Linked DNA regions of Homo sapiens. The protein of the gene in region 1 interacts with the protein of each later gene in a pairwise test. Each region holds a gene or a part of one and is shown in the gene's direction. Other genes may lie near its edges. The genes, in order: FCRL3 and MS4A1.

What was found.
Region 2: the proteins of FCRL3 (region 1) and MS4A1 interact in binary tests that used the Homo sapiens proteins (3 or more experiments, as listed by UniProt).

Annotation. Positions count from the first base shown.
Region 1 is NC_000001.11:157,683,770-157,691,065, reverse strand, and holds part of FCRL3 (Fc receptor-like protein 3 isoform 1 precursor), read left to right. Parts: intron 1-532; coding exon 533-811; intron 812-1,148; coding exon 1,149-1,268; intron 1,269-7,296. UniProt on the Homo sapiens protein: Promotes TLR9-induced B-cell proliferation, activation and survival but inhibits antibody production and suppresses plasma cell differentiation. Enhances activation of NF-kappa-B and MAPK signaling pathways in TLR9 stimulated B-cells.
Region 2 is NC_000011.10:60,465,655-60,471,356, forward strand, and holds the end of MS4A1 (B-lymphocyte antigen CD20), read left to right. Parts: intron 1-266; coding exon 267-503; intron 504-1,304; coding exon 1,305-1,406; intron 1,407-2,595; coding exon 2,596-2,814; 3' UTR 2,815-5,098; downstream 5,099-5,702. UniProt on the Homo sapiens protein: B-lymphocyte-specific membrane protein that plays a role in the regulation of cellular calcium influx necessary for the development, differentiation, and activation of B-lymphocytes.

The DNA of each region.
Region 1 (7,296 bases):
ATCATATAAAACAATGATGATAGATAGATACATACATACATACATACATACATACATACATACATAGACAGATGTCAGGTAGTGCTAAATGCTATGTAGAAAAATAAAGCAAGGTGATTAGGTAGAGAGTAATGGGTCCTGCCTTTAGATAGGTATGGAAGTCTCAGTCTTAGAGCTAAGATTCAGGTGTAGGAATTTTAGAAACCTTGATTTTAGCTATATTTTTATCAATAATAATAACCAATTTTTATAGTACTTTACATGCAATATGATTTTTATTACAATAGCTTGAGATATAATGTATCATTAACTCAGTTTTACAGAGGAATAAACTAAGACTTAGAGAAATTAAAAAGTTCTTAAAAAATCAAGCTTATAGAGCTAATAAAGGATAGAGACAGGATTGAAGCCCAGGTTCTCCAGAATCCAGGTGCATGTTCCCGCAACTCAACTATGCTGCATATTCCTTTATTAAGTTCTCTTGTATACCTACTTAAGTAAAACTGCCAGTGAACTATTTTTCCTCCCTCAGTTCCGGTGTCTCGCCCCGTCCTCACCCTCAGGGCTCCCGGGGCCCAGGCTGTGGTGGGGGACCTGCTGGAGCTTCACTGTGAGTCCCTGAGAGGCTCCTTCCCGATCCTGTACTGGTTTTATCACGAGGATGACACCTTGGGGAACATCTCGGCCCACTCTGGAGGAGGGGCATCCTTCAACCTCTCTCTGACTACAGAACATTCTGGAAACTACTCATGTGAGGCTGACAATGGCCTGGGGGCCCAGCACAGTAAAGTGGTGACACTCAATGTTACAGGTGTGTTAATAGTACCTGGGCTAGAGGTCACAGTTATGGTAAATAAAATAGTTATCTGACAGATTGTACAAATTCTACTAGCACCAAGGAGGTTTTGAACATGCACACGAAGGCTTGGGACTTCTGGAGATTGGTACTGATTTTATATGGGAGAGGGAAAGGAAATACATTTTAATCTTAGATGCTGGAGAATACCTTTCATATGCCATAGTTTTGAAAATTACAAATGATGCTACAGGAGGAATCAGAAACTGGAACACACTCACCCTACTTGCATGATTTTGTCTGTATCCAAAACCTGTGCCACTGAAACTCAAGTACAGCTCCCTCCACTCAGGAACTTCCAGGAACAGAACAGGCCTTACCGCTGCGGGAATCACGGGGCTGGTGCTCAGCATCCTCGTCCTTGCTGCTGCTGCTGCTCTGCTGCATTACGCCAGGGCCCGAAGGAAACCAGGTGGGTGTCTAGGTCCTACCTTGTGATGTGATTTTGCCGTTGCTATAATAATTTGAAGTTGTCTGGTGCACCCTATAAAGGTCAAGTATTCCCTTCCAAGTACTAGGCCCTCAGTTCCACTACTCACTGTCACTCTGTAGGCAATTGTAGCAAAAACAATAGAATAAACTTCTCAATAAAATTTTTACCTCATGTGTTTAATTTGAGATTTATATTAGGTAGCAGAGTTTTGCTTCCAATTAAAAATTAGAAAATTAATTAACTCATGTTCTATCTCCCTAAGAAAGTCCTTCATTTGTAACAAAAAATAAATAAATCATCATAGAGGTGACCATAAACTCCGAGATATATTTGAATGCCAGCTAAATGTAGTGAAATTGGATAAAATAAATAAAGAATGCCAAAAATGAGATTAAAAATTCAATTTCCGATTGTTGCTAGTGTATAGAAACACAACTAATTTTAATATTAATTTTATATCCTGAAATCTTGCTAGACTGACTTATTAGTTCAGTATCTCTTTTGCAGATTTCATCAGATGTTCTATATAGATGATCATGTTGTCTGCAAAGAAAGATAGTTTAACTCTTTCCTTTCCAATATTAATTTCTTTTACTTCTTGTTCTTGCTTAATTGCACTGGTTAGAACCTCCTGTACAATGCTGAGTGCAAGTGGTGAGAGAAAATATTCTTATCACATTCCAGATCTTAGGGGGAAAGTATTCAATCTCTCCCCATTACAGATTACTTTAGCCATGGGTTTTTTTCAATGCTGTTTATCTGGTGGAGGAAGTCCCTCCTATTCCTAATTTGCTGAGAGATTTTACACAAATAAATTTTTGTAAAATGATTTTTCTACATTTATTGAGATAGTAATGAGATTTTTTTTAGTCTATTGATAAGGTGAATTTTGAATGTCGAAGTAGCCTTATATTTCTGGGGTCAACCCAACTTGGTCATGACTGTTGATTTGATTTGCTAAAATTTTGCAAAGGATGTTTACGTCCATGTTTATGAGGAAAATTTGTTGTTAGCTTTCATTTCTAGAAATGTCTTTTTATGATTTGGTCTCAAAGGAATACTTACTCAGTTACCACTTCCAGAATTTTTCATTCCTTTTTATATAGCCATATTTTCACCTGGTATCAATTTTGTTCTGCCTGAAGGACCTTTTTTTTTTTTTTAACATTTCTTACAGTATGACTGCCTGCCAGTGAATTTGATTGATAATGTTTCTCAATTCCTCTATATCCTTACTGATTTTTTGTCTACCTGATCTATCAATTACTGAGATAGGGGAATTAAAATCTTTAACTGTAATTGTGAATTTATCCATTTCTTCTGCAATTCTATCAAGTTTTGCTTCCAGAATTTGGAATTGCTCATTATTAGGTGGATAAGTGTTAAGAATTTTCATGTTTTTGATGAATTATCCACTTTATCCTTATGAAATGACCCTCTGTATCCCTGGTTGAATCACTTACTGTGAAACAGTCTTTGTCTAATATTAATATGTTAATATAATTAGTGTTAGCATGTGATTTTTTTCCATCCTTTTGCTTTTAGCCTATTTGTACCCCTATATTTAAAGTTAATTTTTAATAGATAGCATGCAGCTAATTCTTGCCGGTTTTGTTTAGTTTAATATTGTAGTCTGCCTTTAAAATGAGGTGTTTAGACCATTTGCACTAGTGTAATTATTGATATGATTAGGTTTCATGTCTATTTTGCTATTTGCTTTCTATTTGTCACATCTATTTTTTGCTTTACTTTGACTTATTTTTGGAATAATTGATTTTTTAATTCTATTTTACTTCCTTTGTTAGTATAATAGCCATAACTTTTTAAAAATTTTCAACTTTTATTTTAGATGTAAGGGGTAAATGTGTGGATTGGTTACATGGTTATATTGCATGATATTGAGATTTGGGGTACAGATCCTGTCACCCAGATAGTAAGCATAGTACCCAATAGGTAGTTTTTCAACTCACACATTCCTCCCCATCTCCCCCATCTAGTAGTCCACAGTGTCTGTTGTTCCCATGTTTATGTCCATGTTTGCTCAATGTTTAGGTCCCACTTATAAGTGAGAACATGTGGTATTTGGTTTTCTGTTCTTGTGTTAGTTGGTTTATGATTATGGCCTCCAGTTAAATCTATGTTGCTGCAAAAGACATGATTTCATTTTTTTATGTCTGCGTAGTATTCCATGGTGTATATGTACCACATTTTCTTTATCCAGTCTACCACTGGTGGGCACCTAGATTGATACCATATCTTTGCTATTGTGAATAGTATGGCAATGAACATATGAGTGCATGTGTCTTTTTGACAGAATGATTTATTTTTTTGTGAGCGTATACCAATAACAGAATTACTAGGTTGAATGGTAGCTCTATTATAAGTTCTTTGAGAAATCTCCAAACCCCTTTCCACAGTGGTTAAACTAACTTAAATTCCCACCAACAGTGTATAAGCATTCCCTTTTCTCCTCAGCCTCACCAGCACCTATTGTTTTCTGACTTTTAAGTAATAGCCATTCTGACTGGTGTGAGATAGTATCTGATGGTGGTTTTGATTTCCATTTCTCTGGAGATTAGTGATGTTGAGCATTTTTTTATGTTTGTTGGCTGCTTGCTTGACTTCTTTTGAGAAGTGGCTGTTCATGTCCTTCACTTATATTTTAATGGGGTTATTTGGTTTTTGCTTGTTGATTTGTTTAAGTTCCTTACAGGTCTCAACATTAGACTTCTGTCAGATGCATAGTTTCCTAATATTTTCTCCCATTCTATAGGTTGCCTGTTTACTCTGTTGATAATTTCTTTTGCCGTGCAGAAGCTCTTTAGTTTAATTAAGTCACACTTGTCAATTTTTGTTTTTGTTGCAATTGCTTTGGGAACTTAGCCAAAAATTCTTGGCCAAAGCTGATGTCAAGGATTGTATTTCCTAGGTTTTCCTCTAGGAATTTTATAGTTTGGAGTCCTACATTTAAATCTTTGATCCATCCTGAATTAAGTTTTGTATATGGTGAAAAGTAGGGGTCTAGTTTCAGTTTTCTGAATATGGCTAGCAAGTTATCCCAGCACCATTTATTGAATAGACAGTCATTTCCCCATTGCTTCTTTTTGTTAGCCTTGGCAAAGATCAGATGGTTGTAGGTGTGAATCTTTATTTCTGAGTTTTCTATTCCATTCCGTTGGTCTATGTGTCTGTTTTTGTATCAGTACTATACTATTTTGATTACTGTAGGCTTATAGTATAGTTTGAAGTTGTGAGGTGTGATGCCTTCAGCTTTGCTGTCTTTGCTTAGGAATGCTTTGGCTATTTGGGCTCTTTTTTGGTTCCATATGAATTTTAAAATAGATTTTTCTAATTCTGTGAAGAATGATATTGGTAATTTGATAGGAATAATATTGAATCTGTAAATTTCTTTGGGCAGTATGGCCATTTTAACAATATTAATTCTTCCAATCTATGAGCATGCAATATTTTTCCATTTATTTGTGTTGTCTTTATTTCAGCATTTTTTTTTTTAATTTCTCGCAGAGATCTTTCACCTCCTTTGTTAGCTGTATTCCTAGGTATTTCATTTTCTTTGTGGCTATTCAAAATGGAATTGTACCATTGATTTAACTCTTTGCCTGACTTTGTTGATGTATAGAAATGCTACTGGTTTTTGTACCTTAATTTTGTGTCCTGAAACCTTACTCTTGGCAGAGTCTTGAGGGCTTTCAAGTTAGAGAGTCATGCAGTCAGTGAAAAGAGAAAGTGTGACTTATTTAGCTATTTGGGTGCTTTTTATTTCTTTCTCTTGCCTGGTTGCTCTGGCTAGGAATTTCAGGACTATCTTGAATAGGCGTAGTGATAGTGGACATGCATAGTTGTGTCCCTTTTTCATTAATTAAAAAAAATTTTTTTATTTATGCATTAATTTTTATCTTTACCCAGGAGTTATTCAGGAGTAAGTTGTCTAATTTCCATGTATTTGTTAGTTTTGAGAGATCTTCTTGATATTTATTTCTATTTTTATTGCACTGTAGTCTAAGAGTGTACTTGGTATGATTTTTTAAAAAAATTTATTGATATCTGCTTTATGGCCCAGCATATGGCTGATCCTAGGATATGTTCCACATGCAGGTGAGAAGAATGTATATTCCATAGTTGCCGGATAGAATATTCTGTAGATGTGTGTTAGGTCTATTTGGTCAAGTGTCAAGTTTCTTTGTCAGTTTTCTGACAAAGTCCAGAGTTTCTTTGTCAGTTTTCTGCCTCGATGATCTGTCTAACTCTGTCAGTGGGATATTGAAATCTCCCACTATTATTGTGTGACTGTCCAGGTTTTTTTGTAGATCAAGAGGAACTTGTTTTATGATTCTGGGTGCTGCAATGTTGGGTGCATATATATTTAGAATAGTTAAGTTTTCTTGTTGGAAGCAATAATTATTTGTTTTGTTACTCTGGTGATTGCTTTAGGGCTTATAGTATACATCTTCAACTTATTGCTGTTTTCAAGTGAAATTATATTACTTATAGAAGGCTAGTCACACCTCCTACTTCCAAAATTACTTTTCTTTTTTTCCTCTCATTGTTTATCTGGGATGCCATTTTCTAATCTATAACATACTAAAAGAAGACATTTGAATCTCAGTGTTGAGGTTGTCAGTCAGCACAGCACCAGGAGAGAAAACTGACAATCATTTCACATGATCCATGTGAACAGAAGCCCAGGTGGTCTGTCCCCCAGACTTAGGGGAAGTGTTATTTTAAATAACAAACTCACTAAGGAATTAGGACAGTTCACCAAGCAGAGGGTCTGTGCTCTTCTTTTCTCAAAATCTTGCTTATTGTACCTCCTCATAGCAAAGTCTCCCTTCTCACCATTGACAAGACTTCTCAGGAAGAAGCTCAGACCTTCTACATTTTTCTAAAAGTTAAGGGCTCTGCTCCTTGCCTGAGTGAATCACTCCTAAAAGGAATGATAGGTTTTTTGACTCTATAGTAAATCTGGCTGTGTTGAAATTCCAGTAACAAAACTTGCCAACTTGATATTGGGCAAATAAGTTAAACTCACTAAACTCAGTTTCTTCATCTATGAAGTGGTTATAATAATAACAGTATCTACCTTTTAGGTACTATGACACAACCTAGGTAAACTGCTTAGCACCGTGCTGGCCCATATGTCTTCAAGGAATATTAGCTTGTATAATAAATAGCCACCTGTCTAGGTCTCAGTTTTCTCTTTTACAGATAAGGAGATAGACTGACTCCCAGATGCATTCTAGGTCGGAGCTAACCACCCACAGAAAAGATACTGGTTATTGACTGATGTGGATTGTGATTGCTCTGAGGAGATTCAGGACCAGATCCTGATCATACCCCTCTAGCTTAACTCAGGAGTCCCACTCCCTGAGGAACAGGGAGTTACTCAGTTATTTTTCATGAGAGTCAAGGCTGGTATGTTTATTTTGAGCAACGACTTGCATTCTCTAAGCCAATGAGACCGATTAGAGCCACAGATTTTAAAAAGGCAAAGGACAAGGATGGGAACCTGGATAAGGCTTGTATTGGGGCAAGCCTGAAAGATTCAATATTTCGGTGATGACGGAAACTTGCCATATTTTTAAGTCTGATAGATTTGGCTTCAAGGATAGACTTCTAACAGGCAATCTCCTTTTAGAAAATTGTCAATTTGTTATTTTTAAGTCCTCAAAGTAAATACTTTGTTCAGTTGTTTAACACATCTTTGTTGAATATTTTTAACTGCTAAGCATGATATTAGGAATACAAAAAAATTTAAGATGAGGTTTACAGCCTCAAGTAGCACACCCTTTCATGAAAGAGAGAAATAGAGGCAAATAGAAATAAATAATTACGAAACAATATAGTAATTTTAATATTACATGGTCTTATGTGCATGGAGACAGTTTACTTAATCCAGCCTGTTGGCATCAGGGACAGCTCTGGAAGAAAGATAAATCGGAGCTAGCCAAGTGAAAGAGAAGGAGAGAAGAGGTGTGGAAAAGCCATT
Region 2 (5,702 bases), on another chromosome or scaffold:
GATATAGAATCAAGGGTTACTCTTAGAATTTTTGCTTTATAAAACAGATGGATGGTGAATGAGATAGGGAAGACTGAGAAAAGAACAGGATAGAGACATGATTTTATTTTATAGTGACAAAGAGGCTAAAAACAACTGAGAGAACTTCAGTATATTTAGTTGTAGTTGCTTTGTGAGTCAGGGCAGTTGCATTTGGAATTCCCTCCCAGATTATGTTTTCCAAAGGGAAATCAAACCCAATTAATAAATCTGTGTCTCCATTTCAGGTCAAAGGAAAAATGATAATGAATTCATTGAGCCTCTTTGCTGCCATTTCTGGAATGATTCTTTCAATCATGGACATACTTAATATTAAAATTTCCCATTTTTTAAAAATGGAGAGTCTGAATTTTATTAGAGCTCACACACCATATATTAACATATACAACTGTGAACCAGCTAATCCCTCTGAGAAAAACTCCCCATCTACCCAATACTGTTACAGCATACAATCTCTGTTCTTGGTAAGTGTTCTTGGTAAGTGTGAGATTGGATTTCTCTCCAGGGAGGAAGGATGACTTGTTTATTATGAGCATGAACTCTGGATCCAGACCACCTGAGTTTGCTAGTTACTGTCTGTGTGGCTTTGGGAAAGAATTTTAACCACACTGTGCCTCAATTTCTTCAACTGTAAAATGGGGATGGTAACACTATTTATCTAATAGGGTTGTTCTGAGGAATAAATAAGTTAATATATACAAAGCATTTAGAACAGTGTTTGGTACACAGAAGTGCTATATAAGCATTGGCTTTAACATTAATTATTCTCAACATCATTAATGGCATTAATATTTACCATTATATTAACTAAGATGAGCATAGAAGAAATTCCTAAGATGTTATGAATATCTTTTGCCCAAGGACTTTTAAATGTAGAGTTTGAAAGAGATAAAAAAAAATGCATCTCCCAAGGATGAAGAGGTCTCCTAGGCATGATGCCACACCAACTAAGGCTGAATACAATTTAATTTGAGACTCATTACTTATTCTTTCCTATACAGAATTGATTCTTCAACTGATTATTCATACCTTACTTTCTATCAGCAATACACATTAACCATCTGTTGTGTGCCAAAAGTTGTGTTAAGAGTTAGGGTTATAAAGATGCTGTCTCCTGTACTAGCAGTTCTCACAGCTATTCATTACTTGTCTAAAGAATTGATCTCTTAATCGTTCAATTATAGTCAACAATAACTTACTGAACACCAACAATGTTCTTTGTGCCATTATTACATTTTCACCTTCATTCTTCTGTTGTTTTTCAGGGCATTTTGTCAGTGATGCTGATCTTTGCCTTCTTCCAGGAACTTGTAATAGCTGGCATCGTTGAGAATGAATGGAAAAGAACGTGCTCCAGACCCAAATCTGTAAGTAGTAGCCCCTCTGGCCAAAACCTCCCTCTAGAAAATCCACATCCACAAAGGATCATTTATGGAGAATGTAATCTGATGAGTTGTTGAAACTAGGAGCTTGATTTAAAAAAAAAAATTGGTCTTGGCATATTTCTAGAAAGCAAATAATATGATGTCTTGAAATTTGAAATAAGTCTGTAGTTAGAGCCTACAGTTCTATATTCTGTGCGTCTTTTTTTTTTTTTTTTTTGAGACAGAGTCTCACTTTGTTGCCCAGGCTAGAGTGCAATGGCGCGATCTTGGCCCAGTGCAACCTCTGCCTCCGGGTTCAGGCGATTCTCCTGCCTCACCCTCCCGAGTAGCTGGGATTACAGGCACCCGCCATCATGCCTGGCCAATTTTTGTATTTTTGTAGAGACGGGGGTTCACCATGTTGGCCAGGCCAGTCTTGAACTCCCGACCTCAGGTGATCCTCCCACCTCAGCCTCCGAAAGTGCTGGGATTGCAGGCGTGAGCCACCATGCCCCACCTCTGTGCATCTTCTTATTAACCTTCCCTGCTGCTTGACTTCAGGCTTCCATCCTGATTTCATGATTCCATATACAGTGTGTAAAAGCAAGATGGTTGAAGGTTGAAGGCTAAGTCACTAGTTCTTTGGTTTCATTTTTCAGTATTCCCCTCTTCCCTCCTTTTCACCTAATTCCTCTTCCAAAACAACAGGTTAAAGGGCTCCACAAATGGGAAATAAAAACAGACCAATAATAGATATATTACTAACTGCTTCAGAACCAGACTGTTAGATTTAGAATTTAGAAATCATCGCTAATTACTTCATTTTGCATTTAAAGAAAAATAGTATCAAAGAGAGAAAATTATTCTCCCAGAGTTATATTCACTAAAGGCAAATCAGAACGAAAATCTAAACTCCTCTATTACTGCAATGTTCTTTTCCCAATACCACGTGGTCATTCCAGGCACTGTGGTCAATGTCTGCTGCCCTTGAAGATTTATTCAGACTTGAGTTTTAATAAATGACTTGATAAGGATATAAGCACCTGCAAAAAAATTTTGGCATTTAAAGGCATATAATAAATGACATAAGTAGCATAAAAACCAGGAGGTATTTGATAAATGTTTGTGGAGATTGTTGACAAAGGTGTCAGTGGTAAAAGTAAAGAATGGTTTGTTTAATTTTCTGTTTTAGAACATAGTTCTCCTGTCAGCAGAAGAAAAAAAAGAACAGACTATTGAAATAAAAGAAGAAGTGGTTGGGCTAACTGAAACATCTTCCCAACCAAAGAATGAAGAAGACATTGAAATTATTCCAATCCAAGAAGAGGAAGAAGAAGAAACAGAGACGAACTTTCCAGAACCTCCCCAAGATCAGGAATCCTCACCAATAGAAAATGACAGCTCTCCTTAAGTGATTTCTTCTGTTTTCTGTTTCCTTTTTTAAACATTAGTGTTCATAGCTTCCAAGAGACATGCTGACTTTCATTTCTTGAGGTACTCTGCACATACGCACCACATCTCTATCTGGCCTTTGCATGGAGTGACCATAGCTCCTTCTCTCTTACATTGAATGTAGAGAATGTAGCCATTGTAGCAGCTTGTGTTGTCACGCTTCTTCTTTTGAGCAACTTTCTTACACTGAAGAAAGGCAGAATGAGTGCTTCAGAATGTGATTTCCTACTAACCTGTTCCTTGGATAGGCTTTTTAGTATAGTATTTTTTTTTGTCATTTTCTCCATCAACAACCAGGGAGACTGCACCTGATGGAAAAGATATATGACTGCTTCATGACATTCCTAAACTATCTTTTTTTTATTCCACATCTACGTTTTTGGTGGAGTCCCTTTTGCATCATTGTTTTAAGGATGATAAAAAAAAATAACAACTAGGGACAATACAGAACCCATTCCATTTATCTTTCTACAGGGCTGACATTGTGGCACATTCTTAGAGTTACCACACCCCATGAGGGAAGCTCTAAATAGCCAACACCCATCTGTTTTTTGTAAAAACAGCATAGCTTATACATGGACATGTCTCTGCCTTAACTTTTCCTAACTCCCACTCTAGGCTATTGTTTGCATGTCTACCTACTTTTAGCCATTATGCGAGAAAAGAAAAAAATGACCATAGAAAATGCCACCATGAGGTGCCCAAATTTCAAATAATAATTAACATTTAGTTATATTTATAATTTCCAGATGACAAAGTATTTCATCAAATAACTTCATTTGATGTTCCATGATCAAGAAAGAATCCCTATCTCTATTTTACAAGTAATTCAAAGAGGCCAAATAACTTGTAAACAAGAAAAGGTAACTTGTCAACAGTCATAACTAGTAATTATGAGAGCCTTGTTTCATAACCAGGTCTTCTTACTCAAATCCTGTGATGTTTGAAATAACCAAATTGTCTCTCCAATGTCTGCATAAACTGTGAGAGCCAAGTCAACAGCTTTTATCAAGAATTTACTCTCTGACCAGCAATAAACAAGCACTGAGAGACACAGAGAGCCAGATTCAGATTTTACCCATGGGGATAAAAAGACTCAGACTTTCACCACATTTGGAAAACTACTTGCATCATAAATATATAATAACTGGTAGTTTATATGAAGCAGACACTAAGTGCTATAGACACTCTCAGAATATCATACTTGGAAACAATGTAATTAAAATGCCGAATCTGAGTCAACAGCTGCCCTACTTTTCAATTCAGATATACTAGTACCTTACCTAGAAATAATGTTAACCTAGGGTGAAGTCACTATAATCTGTAGTCTATTATTTGGGCATTTGCTACATGATGAGTGCTGCCAGATTGTGGCAGGTAAAGAGACAATGTAATTTGCACTCCCTATGATATTTCTACATTTTTAGCGACCACTAGTGGAAGACATTCCCCAAAATTAGAAAAAAAGGAGATAGAAGATTTCTGTCTATGTAAAGTTCTCAAAATTTGTTCTAAATTAATAAAACTATCTTTGTGTTCTTTTCTGCAACAGATGATTCCAACATGGGTGTTTGTCTATTCTTCTTTACTCTTGAAACATTAGACCATGGGAGGCTCTTACAGCCTTGAGTTGATATTTATACAACCCAAATCTAGGTTTGAACGGTGAGGTGTCAGGTCATCAAATATTCATGTCTATATAGTCTTACACAGGTTCTCAAAAAAAATGTTCATGGGATAGGTCATTGATAATGGATTCCTTATTCTGAGAACTCCAGACGACTGAAATATATGAGAGAAGGAAAAGGACATAGTAGGAGCAGGCCTGAGAAAAAAATGAAAGTCAGAAATCTTTAAAAAAATACAAGATCTTATTTCTATCTTATTTTTTCTCCTCTTCTGAAATATATATGAGGATTCCTCTCCAAACCCATGGTTTCTCTAAGAATTTTGAGTCATTTGTATGACCTCAAATAATTAGTTTTAGCTGACCTCACATAACTCCTTATAATAGGAGACATCTTTAATGTCTGCTATTAAAGAAGGATGAAAATTCCTATGACCTTCTCCCCGATTATCCCTTTGGCAATATAGAGTCAAATAATAACATTGACCAATAGTAAACATGCTTTGCCAAGAAGTAGAAGATATATTCTCTAGCCTTAGTTTTTCCTCCCAATTTGCATTTTTGTAAAAATAATGTTGTATCCACAAAGGAAATAAACTTTAAAAACCCAAGTGCACTCATTGACTAGGAGGCTGACGTAACTTATTTTCATTTTCTTCTGGTTTTCTTATAATCTTTGTTTAAAATAAGGTGATAAACCATCCCAGTTTGTCTGAGTCTGAGGGATTTCCTGGGATACACGATTTTCAATGTTAAAACCAAGATAGTCCCAGGCAAACAGGATAGTTGATTATCCTACTTCATAGTAATAGATTACTCACTTACAATCACTGCATAATATTTACTTTTTACATGTAACAGTATATCATAGATTTTTCCTTATTGATACATAATTTCATAAGCATCACTTAATTTCAACTTAGGATTTTATGAATCAATATAAATTTACCATTCCTCTATTATTGGATATGTAGGGTATTTCCTTTTCTTTCTTTATACAAATCACTTTTGGAGCACAGAAATCATGAGCAAGATACATGTTTCCTCTTATTATTCAAAATGTAGCTTTACATTTAAAGTCTTGTCAACATTGACCAGTAGGAATTACTAGCACCTGTTAAAACCCAGAAAATTTACCTTTAATTTCACATCAACAAGAGAATAGTCAAAGATCCAATACACAGAAATAGTTACTTCAGATTCATTTAGCTTGAGTTCAT